2 linked regions of the Homo sapiens genome follow. The protein of the gene in region 1 purifies or fractionates together with the protein of each later gene. This does not show direct contact. Each region holds a gene or a part of one and is shown on either strand. Other genes may lie near its edges.

Evidence for each region.
Region 2: the proteins of EIF2AK3 (region 1) and TBL2 purify together in Homo sapiens (affinity purification with western blotting; 3 studies listed by BioGRID). This does not show direct contact.

Annotation. Positions count from the first base shown.
Region 1 is NC_000002.12:88,556,241-88,561,464, reverse strand, and holds the end of EIF2AK3 (eukaryotic translation initiation factor 2-alpha kinase 3 isoform 1 precursor), read left to right. Parts: intron 1-2,485; coding exon 2,486-2,548; intron 2,549-3,528; coding exon 3,529-3,729; 3' UTR 3,730-4,724; downstream 4,725-5,224. UniProt on the Homo sapiens protein: Metabolic-stress sensing protein kinase that phosphorylates the alpha subunit of eukaryotic translation initiation factor 2 (EIF2S1/eIF-2-alpha) in response to various stress, such as unfolded protein response (UPR).
Region 2 is NC_000007.14:73,568,507-73,576,034, reverse strand, and holds part of TBL2 (transducin beta-like protein 2), read left to right. Parts: intron 1-1,521; coding exon 1,522-1,652; intron 1,653-1,912; coding exon 1,913-2,097; intron 2,098-2,563; coding exon 2,564-2,715; intron 2,716-3,064; coding exon 3,065-3,191; intron 3,192-3,999; coding exon of another isoform or gene 4,000-4,087; exon of another isoform or gene 4,088-4,280; intron 4,281-4,693; coding exon 4,694-4,846; intron 4,847-5,062; coding exon 5,063-5,528; 3' UTR 5,529-7,528.

The sequences.
Region 1 (5,224 bases):
ACGGTAAAACCCCATCTCTGCTAAAAATACAAAAAATTAGCCGGGCATGGTGGCACGTGCCTGTAGTCCCAGCTACTCTGGAGGCTGAGGCAGGAGAATGGTGTGAACCCGGGAGGCGGAGCTTGCATTGAGCAGAGATCGCGCCACTGCACTCCAGCCTGGGTGACAGAGTGAGACTCTGTCTCGAAAAAAAAAAAAAAAGTAGCCCTCTGGCCAGGCATGGTGGCTCACACCTCTAATCCCAACACTTTGGGAGGCTCAAGCAGGAAGATCACTTGAGGCCAGAGTTCAACACCAGCCTGGGCAACATAGTAAGACCCCATCTCTACAAAAAATTTAAAAATTAGCAAGGCATGGTAGCACATGCCTTGAGAGGCTAAGGCAGGAAGATCACTATGATTGTGCCACTGCACTCCAGCCTGGGCGACACAGCAAGACCCTGTCTCTGAAAATAAAGTGGGCCTCTGTCACATTCTTCCCTATCTTTCATAAGTAGCTACCCTCACCTCTTCTAGTTGTTGTCCCTGGTACTTATCTCCATATTTTCAAAGTTTAGGCTCTTGTCACTATTTCTTATTTTATCAGTTTTAGATCTTACTTATTGATCTCTGGCCATGGTAGAAGAGGATGTAGTTCTCACATAGAGCAAAATGACTCATATCTTCTAACCGAAAGGACCTACCAAATGTTCTGTACAATGAATGAAAAAAAAAAAAAAACAGTCAAAATAACCATTTTCAGAACACCAGAAATAAAGGCCCTAAAAGCTTCCAGAAAGGAAAATAAAACAGGTCTAACCTAAGTAAAGGATCAAGAATCAGATGGCATCAAAATTTATATAGTTATAAATGCCTCAGAGAATACTGTCAAGAAAGTGAAAAGACAAGGTGGACGTGGTAGCACATGCCTGTAGTCCCAGCTACGTGGGAAGCTTGAGGCAAAAGGAATTCCTTGAGACCAGGAGTTCACGGCTACAGTAAGCTATGATTATGCCTGCAAATAGCCTGGGCACCATGAGACCCTATCTCTAAATAAATTAATTAAATGAAATAGAAAGTGAAAAGGCAGCTCACAGAATGGGAGAAAATATTTGTAAATCCTATATCCGAAAAGTGTCTAGAATTCAGAATACATAAAGAACTATTACAACTCAACAAAAAGACAACTCATTTTAAAAAGGGGCAAAGCAATAGAACTTTCTCCAAAGAGGATAAACAAATGGCCAATAAGCATGTGAAAAGATGCTCAACATCGTTGGGCATTAGGGAAATGCAAATCAAAACCACAATGAGATACCACTTCAGCACCATCTAGGGTATCTGTAATAAAAAAATTAAAAAAAAAGGAAATGTCAAGTGTTGGCTAGGATGTGGAGAAATTGGAACCCTCATACGTTGCTGGTGGAATGTAAAATGGTGCAGCTGCTTTGGAAAACAGTCTGGCAGTTCCTTAAACAGTTAAACATAGAATTACCATAGAATCCAGTAATTCTACTCCTAGGTATGTACTCAAGGGAAATGAAAACATAGACAAAAGCTTGTATACAACTGTTCATATGAGCATTATTTCTAATATCCAAAAGTAGAAACCACCAAAATGCTCATCAGCTGATGAATGGAAAAACAAAGTGTGGTATTTTATACAATGAAAAGTATTCAACCATTACAAGGAAGGAAATACTAACATGTGCCGCAACGTAGATGAATCTTGAAAACATGCTGAGTGAAAAAAGCCAGACACAAAAGTCCACTTTTATATCATTCAGTTTTTATGAAATATTCAGAAGAGGCAACTCCATAGAAACAAAGATTTCCAATATTTTCTTTGTGCTTTAATATGGCCCTTTCTCTCTCTCTCTCTCCCCTTTCTCTTTCTCCCTCCCTCCACACATACATATATACACATATATGTAAATGTACATACACACACACACACACACACACACACACACACAGTCATCTTGGTATCCACAGGGGATTGGTTCCAGGACTCCCTGTGGATACCAAATCTGCAGATGCTCAAGTCCCTTATATAAAATGGTGTAATATTTGTATAGAACCTACATATATTCTGTGTATTTTAAATCTTCTGTAAATTACAGTACCTAACATAATGTAAATTCTATGTAAATAAGTATTATACTGTATTGATGAGGGAATAATGACAAGAAAAAAATCTGTATCTGTCCAGTACAGATGCAACCATCTATTTTTAAATTTTTTAAATATTTTCATTCTGTGGTTGGTTGAATCCTTGGATGTGGAATCTGTGGATGTGGAAGACCAGCTGTATATTTTGAGGATATTTGATGGAGTGTACATCTGTGCTCAGGAAACATATGTAGTTATTAAATCAGGAAAAGCTATTGATAAATTTTCCATTTGATAGATGTACAACCTCTTAGTCATTTTGTTAGAGTATCAAAAAATATTTTCATGTTGTATGTCAAAATAAACTTAATAAGTGATACTTTTTTTCTTTTTAGACCTTAACTGATGTAAGAAATCTCAAATTTCCACCATTATTTACTCAGAAATATCCTTGTGAGGTATGTGTAATTCTCATCTTTTATCTTCTTTAGAATCATCTTTAGAACGTAAGCGGTCCTTAGCAGTCGACTCAGTTTCCCCTATTTTACAGATGAGGAAGCCAAAGGTCTAGAGAGGAAAGAGACCTGCTCCCAAGAGCCCAGAATTTGTTAAAACCAAACACTGGAGCTGGGGCCTGGCTCCTTCAGCCTAATGTCCAGTGTTCCACACTGTAGCACCTGTGAAATTTATATATTGATAAATCTTGAATTTCCTTAAGTAATTAAGTTGAAGTGAGTTAGTATGTGTTCATTTTCAAATTGGAAAAAGTCAAAATTTATCTTTCAGTATTATAATGAAGGGTTGCATTAAAAAATGGACTTTATAACAATATATTAATACCTACATATACTTAAGTCTGTTTTACTAAAAATTGTCATCATGTATTTTGCAAACTTGATGAATCTATTCCCAGGGTGGCTCATAAGAGTACATGTTACGTTCAAAGAGATTTTTAAAAACCAAGAAAAGGTGTTGGTTGCTGATCTCTGCCATAATTTTTTCTAATTAAAATTTCTATTGAGATAATTGTAGATTTACATGCAATTATAAGATGATTTTTAAAAATCATATTTATGTTTCAGGGATGTGATTAAATAATCCTTTATAATGTGTTAGAAAATCAAATTACCCAAAAATTGTCCATGTTTTTTTGGAATGAGGGTTGGCAAACTAGTGCCCACAGGTCAAATCCAGCCTGCCACCTATTTTTATAATAAAGTTCTATTGGAACACAGCCATGCCCATTAATTTACAAATTGTCTCTGGATGCTTTTGTGCATTGACGGCAGAGCTGAGTAGTTGTATCAGAGACTTGAAAACTCGAATATGGCTCAAAAGCTTAAAATATGTACAGAAATATTTTGCCAGCACTGATTTTAAAAACTGTACAGTGATCAAACCTGGCCGTTTTATCACAAAACAATTTTTATATTTTCAGTACGTGATGGTTCAAGACATGCTCTCTCCATCCCCCATGGAACGACCTGAAGCTATAAACATCATTGAAAATGCTGTATTTGAGGACTTGGACTTTCCAGGAAAAACAGTGCTCAGACAGAGGTCTCGCTCCTTGAGTTCATCGGGAACAAAACATTCAAGACAGTCCAACAACTCCCATAGCCCTTTGCCAAGCAATTAGCCTTAAGTTGTGCTAGCAACCCTAATAGGTGATGCAGATAATAGCCTACTTCTTAGAATATGCCTGTCCAAAATTGCAGACTTGAAAAGTTTGTTCTTCGCTCAATTTTTTTGTGGACTACTTTTTTTATATCAAATTTAAGCTGGATTTGGGGGCATAACCTAATTTGAGCCAACTCCTGAGTTTTGCTATACTTAAGGAAAGGGCTATCTTTGTTCTTTGTTAGTCTCTTGAAACTGGCTGCTGGCCAAGCTTTATAGCCCTCACCATTTGCCTAAGGAGGTAGCAGCAATCCCTAATATATATATATAGTGAGAACTAAAATGGATATATTTTTATAATGCAGAAGAAGGAAAGTCCCCCTGTGTGGTAACTGTATTGTTCTAGAAATATGCTTTCTAGAGATATGATGATTTTGAAACTGATTTCTAGAAAAAGCTGACTCCATTTTTGTCCCTGGCGGGTAAATTAGGAATCTGCACTATTTTGGAGGACAAGTAGCACAAACTGTATAACGGTTTATGTCCGTAGTTTTATAGTCCTATTTGTAGCATTCAATAGCTTTATTCCTTAGATGGTTCTAGGGTGGGTTTACAGCTTTTTGTACTTTTACCTCCAATAAAGGGAAAATGAAGCTTTTTATGTAAATTGGTTGAAAGGTCTAGTTTTGGGAGGAAAAAAGCCGTAGTAAGAAATGGATCATATATATTACAACTAACTTCTTCAACTATGGACTTTTTAAGCCTAATGAAATCTTAAGTGTCTTATATGTAATCCTGTAGGTTGGTACTTCCCCCAAACTGATTATAGGTAACAGTTTAATCATCTCACTTGCTAACATGTTTTTATTTTTCACTGTAAATATGTTTATGTTTTATTTATAAAAATTCTGAAATCAATCCATTTGGGTTGGTGGTGTACAGAACACACTTAAGTGTGTTAACTTGTGACTTCTTTCAAGTCTAAATGATTTAATAAAACTTTTTTTAAATTAAGTATGTTGACTCTTATTTTGAGGAGTTAGTCCCAAAATGGTAGATTTTCTAATTTATAAAATGGGATCATAGATCTAGGAAGAGTCATAAACCTATCCTCAAAAAAACTTCTTCCTAACCCATTTCAGACAGGTATCTTTTTCATCATTTCCCAAAGACTTGGCAGGCCCTTTCAAAATTCACAAGATCCATAATTGACAGACATTTGCCCAGTACCTACCCTGTGCCAAGGACTGAGAATATAGAGGACTTTCCCCTAAAGGGAGAGCTCTCAGAGAAAAGGGCTGTGGTGATGCTAGTTGTATTGATACCGAGGTGTATCTGACATGTGCCACATCGAGGCATGTGGCAGGCTGGGCTGATGGGGCATGAACCAGCTAGACACAATCTAGAAAGGTCAAAATGCATAGCATCTCCATATTACAAACAAATAATGTCTGCCACGCAAGGTTATGAGCAACTTGTACGCTGGAAAAACACTTCCCAGATCTTTGTGGCTG
Region 2 (7,528 bases), on another chromosome or scaffold:
TTTGAGACAGAATCTCACTCTGTCGCCTAGGCTGGAATACAGTGGCACGATCACTGCATTTGAACTCCTGGGCTCAAGCAATTTTCCCTCCTCAGCCTCCGAATAGCTGGGACCACAGGCGCACACCACCATGCCCAGCTAATTAAAGTTTTCTGTAGAGATGGGGTGTCACTATGTTACCCAGGCTGGTCTCGAACTCCTGAGCTCAAGCAATCCTCCCATCTCAGCCTACCAAAATGCTGGGATCACAGGCATGAGCCACCGCCCCCAGTTCTCAACCTCTCTTTAAGAAAACCAAGGCTGGGCCGGACACAGTGGCTCACGCCTATAATCCCAGCACTTTGGGAGGCCAAGGCAGGCAGATCACTTGAGGTGAGGAGTTGGAGACAAGCCTGGCCCACATGGTGAAACCCCATCTCTACTAAAAAAACAAAAAAATTGGGGCCAGGTGCCATGGCTCACGCCTGTAATCCTAGCACTTTGGGAGGCCGAGGCGGGTGGATCACAAGGTCAGGAGATTGAGACCATTCTGGCTAATGTGGTGAAACCCCACATCTACTAAAAATACAAAAAAAAATTAGCCGGGCATGGTGGCGGGCGCCTGTAGTCCCAGCTACTTGGGAGGCTGAGGCAGGAGAATGGCGTGAACCCGGGAGGCAGAGCTTGCAGTGAGCTGAGATCACGCCACTGCACTCCAGCCTGGGTGACAGAGCGAGACTCCATCTGAAAAAAAAAAAAAAAATTAGCTGGATATGGTGGTGCACGCCCATGATCCCAGCTACTTGGAAGGCTGAGGCACAAGAATTGCTTGAACCTGGGAGGCAGAGGCTACAGTGAGCGGAGATCACGCCACTGCACTCCAGCCTGGGCGACAGAGCAAGACTCTGTCTCCAAAAAAAAGAAAGAAAGAAAAGAAAAAAAAAACCAAGGTCCAGAGCAATTCACTAACTTACCCAAAGCAGGGCCGCTAGAGATGGTTGTGCACATTACTCCCTACATAGGGATGTCTGGCCAAGGATCCACACTCCACTGGCCGTGCTGTGTACCCGCCCAGCAGCATCACCCAACCCAGAGAGTGCGCCTTTTCCACTCTACATGAAGGTGCTCTGTGGACTTACTGTAAACAGCCTCCTCAGTAGTCAGTCAGTAGTAGAGACAGAATCCAAACCCAGGTCTGATTCCAAAGCCTCTGTTTTGTTTCTGTTTTCTGTTTGTTTTTTTTTGAGACAGGGTCTTGCTCTGTCACTCAGGATGGAATGCAGTAGTGTTGTGATCATAGCTTACTGCAGCCTCGAACTCCTGGGCTCAAATGATCCAAAGCATTGGGATTACAGGCATGAGCCACCATACCCAGCCAGCCAAAGCCTCTGTTTTTGCCCATATCACACTCATTCTCCTCCAGAAGACAAGGGCCATATCTGGTTAATCTCCTGCTGTTCCACTCAATGCCTGGCTCATCATAGGTGGGCAGTAAATGCTTATCAGTGAGTAACTGGAGAACAACATGGCCCTTCCTTATAGGCCAAAAAGCAAATGGATTTCCACCTGACAAATCTTCGGGATCCAAGAAGCAGAAACAATATCAGCGGATTCGGAAGGAGAAGCCTCAACAACACAACTTCACCCACCGCCTCCTGGCTGCAGCTCTGAAGGTACGTGGGGTACCTGGCACAGCGTGCACCCTGAGACTCAGCCCCACAGGCTTTTCCTCTGGAGTATTCCATGCATGTTACAGGCTCTCCTGCCTCTGATCAGAATCAGCGGGGGTGCTTAATTCTGTCCCCTCTCATCGCAGCCCAATCTCAGCTTGCTGTTAATCCAGGCCACAGGGCCCCATCTCCCCGGCTCCAGGTTTGGCTTCCCCATCTCCCCCAGGAGCTCCTATTGACACTTCCTGCCACCCTTCCCCTAGAGCCACAGCGGGAACATATCTTGCATGGACTTTAGCAGCAATGGCAAATACCTGGCTACCTGTGCAGATGATCGCACCATCCGCATCTGGAGCACCAAGGACTTCCTGCAGCGAGAGCACCGCAGCATGAGAGCCAACGTGGAGCTGGACCACGCCACCCTGGTGCGCTTCAGCCCTGACTGCAGGTGGGACAAGACGGAGCCTCAGGTTTGCCTGCAGAGGCCTAGTCCCAGGCTTTGGCCTTCCCATATCTGCTTTGAGGTAGTGAGGAGGGACCTGGACCCAGGGCCTCCCTTGGGGTGCCAGAAAGAGCATCCACATAGTTTGCGCGCTGCCTGGGGCTCCCTGGAGATCTGGGCTGCTATACAGCAAGGAAACAGGGGGAGGTCTCTTCCTACCTGGAAATACCTTGGCCTGGCTTCCAGATGAGCCTTAGTTTCTAAACCCTAGAGAGAAACTAAAGGAGCCAAAGCTATCAGAATCTTACCTTTTGAGGAGTTTTATGAGATTTGGAACCAGGGGCTTAAGTTTTAAGGCTAGACTGTGGGGCATGAGGAGAGATCTTGACTTCCCCGAGAACCCAGCACAGGACCTGGAACACAGAGCCTCTTTGTCCAGTGAGAGCGTGACTTGTCTGCTGCCTGTCTCTAGAGCCTTCATCGTCTGGCTGGCCAACGGGGACACCCTCCGTGTCTTCAAGATGACCAAGCGGGAGGATGGGGGCTACACCTTCACAGCCACCCCAGAGGACTTCCCTAAAAAGCACAAGGCGCCTGTCATCGACATTGGCATTGCTAACACAGGTAAGAGGCATTCAGAGGGTGGCGCCTGCCCAAAGCATGAAGGAAAGATCCAGTTCTATTTCCTCAATGAGTTAATGCTGCCTGAAAGTTCTGCTCAACCTGAGAGGAACAAGGGGTCCCTGGCTCTGAACAGCCTGGCTCTGTGCTCCCCTGGAGTCCCTGGGCCACACCAGGTCCCTAGGGAAGGTGGGGAAGGGCCACAGTCTTCAGCAGAGTCCTTATCTGTAGTGACCCTTGGCCTGGGAGGAGACATGTATACTTCGGGCAGCAGAGGCCTTGTAAGTGTCTTTGGAGAGTGACAGTTGGTCAGGTCACTGCCCGTGACCCACATCACTCCCTTCCCGCTCAGGGAAGTTTATCATGACTGCCTCCAGTGACACCACTGTCCTCATCTGGAGCCTGAAGGGTCAAGTGCTGTCTACCATCAACACCAACCAGATGAACAACACACACGCTGCTGTATCTCCCTGTGGCAGGTGGGCAAGGAGGGGTATTGGCGTCTGGGACCACGAGAGGCTGGGGCTGGGGAGCAGGCACAGAACAGAGAGCCAGCTTCATCGCGTGGGAAGAGCATACGGGGTGGGGTCAGGAACCCGAGCTTCAAGTCTCAGCTCTCCCCACTTGCAGTAGTGGGATTTCATGCAGGTCGCCCCATGTCCTTAGTCGCTATTTCTTCATCTTCAGTGTTTTTGTTTTTTAGAAAATTAGTCTCACTCTGTCACCCAGGCTGGAGCACAGTGGTGCGATCATAGCTCACTGCAGCCTCAAACTCCTGGGTTGTAGCTATTCTCCCAGCTCAGCCTCCTGAGTAGTCAGGACTATAGGCATGTGCCACTGTACTCAGCTAATTTTTGTTTTTTGTTTGTTTGTTTGTTGAGACGGTTTCACCCTCGCCCAGGCAGGAGTGCAGTGGCGCAATCACAGCTCACTGTAGCCTTGACTTCCCAGGCTCAGACCATCCTCCCACCTTAGCCTCCCGAGTAGCTGGGACTACAGGCGTGCACTACCACACCTGGCTAATTTTTGTATTTTTTGTTGAGATGGGGTCTTACTATGTTGCCCAGGCTGGTCCTGAACTCCTGGCCTCAAGTGATCCTCTTGCCTCGACCTCCCAAAGTGGTAGAATTACAGGCGTGAGCCACTGTGCCAAGCCACCTTTGGGCGGGGATGTTACATATCTTAGAACAAGGCTAGAAGATAAACTGAGGTCACATACATAAAAGAACTTTTTTGTTGTGGTTGTTTGTTTGTTTTTTGAGATGGAGTTTCGCTCTTGTTGCTTAGGTTGGAGTGCAATGGCAGGATCTTGGCTCACCACAACCTCCGTCTCCCGGGTTCAAGCGATTCTCCTGCCTCAGCCTCCCCCAAGTAGCTGGGATTACAGGCATGCACCACCATGCCCAGCTAATTTTTTATTTTTAGTAGAGGTGAGGTTTCTCCATGTTGGTCAGGCTGGTCTCAAACTGTCGGACCTTAGGTGAGCTGCCCGCCTGGGCCTCCCAAAGTGCTGGGATTACAGGTATGAGCCACCACACCCGGCCTTTTTTTTTTTTTTTTTCTGAGACAGTCTCACTCTGTTGCCCAGGCTGGAGTGCAGTGGTGCAATCTCAATCTCAGCTCACTGCAACCTCCACCTACCAGGTTCAAGTGATTCTCCCACCTCAGCCTTCCCAGTAGGTGGGACTACAGGCATGCGCCACCACGCCTGGCTAATTTTGTATTTTTAGTAGAGATGAGGTTTCACCATGTTGGCCAGGCTGGTCTCGAACTCCTGACCTCAGGTGATCCACCCACCTCGGCCTCCCAAAGTGCTGGGATGACAGGCGTGAGCCACCGCGCCCGGCCAAAATAACTCTTTAAAGGTTTATATTATCCAGATATGAGGATTATCAACTTTCTCAGGAAAGAGATTGAGGGGTTTTACAGGAACAACATGCTCCGAAAATGAAGTTTTAAAGGCTTCTGGGTTGTATGGCAGATTTGTAGCCTCGTGTGGCTTCACCCCAGATGTGAAGGTTTGGGAAGTCTGCTTTGGAAAGAAGGGGGAGTTCCAGGAGGTGGTGCGAGCCTTCGAACTAAAGGGCCACTCCGCGGCTGTGCACTCGTTTGCTTTCTCCAACGACTCACGGAGGTGAGTGAATCCGCTCTGATGTCTGACCAGTGGCTCTTGGCCCCTCTTGACAACCAGGGTCCTTCTGTCTGTTTGTGCCATGGCTCTGAAGAGGGTGGGGTGCCTGGCCCTCGGCAGGAAGCTGACTTAGCTTCCTAGCTGGAGCTGCTCAAGTTGGGCCAGTGCTTACCCTGCCAGGGTGTGTTGGGGCTTGAGCTGTGATTTTCTGTGTTGCAGGATGGCTTCTGTCTCCAAGGATGGTACATGGAAACTGTGGGACACAGATGTGGAATACAAGAAGAAGCAGGACCCCTACTTGCTGAAGACAGGCCGCTTTGAAGAGGCGGCGGGTGCCGCGCCGTGCCGCCTGGCCCTCTCCCCCAACGCCCAGGTCTTGGCCTTGGCCAGTGGCAGTAGTATTCATCTCTACAATACCCGGCGGGGCGAGAAGGAGGAGTGCTTTGAGCGGGTCCATGGCGAGTGTATCGCCAACTTGTCCTTTGACATCACTGGCCGCTTTCTGGCCTCCTGTGGGGACCGGGCGGTGCGGCTGTTTCACAACACTCCTGGCCACCGAGCCATGGTGGAGGAGATGCAGGGCCACCTGAAGCGGGCCTCCAACGAGAGCACCCGCCAGAGGCTGCAGCAGCAGCTGACCCAGGCCCAAGAGACCCTGAAGAGCCTGGGTGCCCTGAAGAAGTGACTCTGGGAGGGCCCGGCGCAGAGGATTGAGGAGGAGGGATCTGGCCTCCTCATGGCACTGCTGCCATCTTTCCTCCCAGGTGGAAGCCTTTCAGAAGGAGTCTCCTGGTTTTCTTACTGGTGGCCCTGCTTCTTCCCATTGAAACTACTCTTGTCTACTTAGGTCTCTCTCTTCTTGCTGGCTGTGACTCCTCCCTGACTAGTGGCCAAGGTGCTTTTCTTCCTCCCAGGCCCAGTGGGTGGAATCTGTCCCCACCTGGCACTGAGGAGAATGGTAGAGAGGAGAGGAGAGAGAGAGAGAATGTGATTTTTGGCCTTGTGGCAGCACATCCTCACACCCAAAGAAGTTTGTAAATGTTCCAGAACAACCTAGAGAACACCTGAGTACTAAGCAGCAGTTTTGCAAGGATGGGAGACTGGGATAGCTTCCCATCACAGAACTGTGTTCCATCAAAAAGACACTAAGGGATTTCCTTCTGGGCCTCAGTTCTATTTGTAAGATGGAGAATAATCCTCTCTGTGAACTCCTTGCAAAGATGATATGAGGCTAAGAGAATATCAAGTCCCCAGGTCTGGAAGAAAAGTAGAAAAGAGTAGTACTATTGTCCAATGTCATGAAAGTGGTAAAAGTGGGAACCAGTGTGCTTTGAAACCAAATTAGAAACACATTCCTTGGGAAGGCAAAGTTTTCTGGGACTTGATCATACATTTTATATGGTTGGGACTTCTCTCTTCGGGAGATGATATCTTGTTTAAGGAGACCTCTTTTCAGTTCATCAAGTTCATCAGATATTTGAGTGCCCACTCTGTGCCCAAATAAATATGAGCTGGGGATTAAATACGAATAAGACATGGTTTCTGCCATCAAAGATGGCTGGTGGGAGAGAGAGATACACCCTTATTAAGTGCTTTGTGTTAGTTTATTCATAGCTATTGTTATATATGTCAAGGCAAGAGAGGACCAGAGCAGGACAGAGGCAATGGGTATTGAAGTTGAAGGGGTACATTTGATAAGAGAGTCGGTATTGAGAAGTTTAAATTTGTGAATTTGAAGGCTGCGTGGGTGTGGCAGGTAAGGGAAATGAGGTATCTGGGAAGGCTTGAGTGTAGGCAAATTTATTCATCCCAAGTCAAACTCTTGATCTCTCTCACGAAAACTATGACCCCCCCTGGTTGCCCCTGACCTCTCAATGTTGGAACAAGCCACAACCGTGGAGTTATCCTTGATGACTCCCCATTCATTATCCCTTCTGTCCCACCACCACAGCTGTCATCTGTTCACCAGAACGTTCTTTTGGTTACACTCCATGTGACATCCTGAGGCTGTTGCTTCTCTCCAGCTTTTCTGTTACCATCCTGGTCCTGGCTACTGTCACCTAGTGGGCCACTATAATATGGCTTCCTAATGGATCTTCCTGCTTCCTCTGTTGCCTCATTACTTTTCTATATAGCAGAATGATCTTTTGAAAATGTGAACCAGATCACATTATTCCCTAGTTAAAACCCCCCAAGGCTTCCCATCACACTTGGAATAAAATCCAAAAGAATTTTTCTAAACCAAAAATAGTAAAAACAATTTTTTTTTTCTGACAATCTCTTGTCACCCAGGCTGGAGTACAATGGCGCAATCTCGGCTCACTGCAACCGCCGCCTCCTAGGTTCAAGCGATTCTCCTGCCTCAGCCTCCAGAGTAGCTGGGATTACAGGCATGTGCCACCACGCCTGGCTAATTTTTGTATTTTTAGTAGAGACAGGGTTTCACGATGTTGGCCAGGCTGCTCTCGAACTCCTGACCTCAAATGATCCACCACCCCCCTTGGCCTCCCCAAGTGCTGGGATTACAGGTGTGAGCCATCGTGCCTAGCTAAAAACACTTAATCCAAAATTCTTACCATGGCCTGCAAGGTCCTGTGTAACCTGGCTTCGTCCCCCCTCTAAATGCTATGAATGTCAGATGGGCACCGTAAATGTGTGAAGGGTCAGTTACCTGGGTGTAAGGCA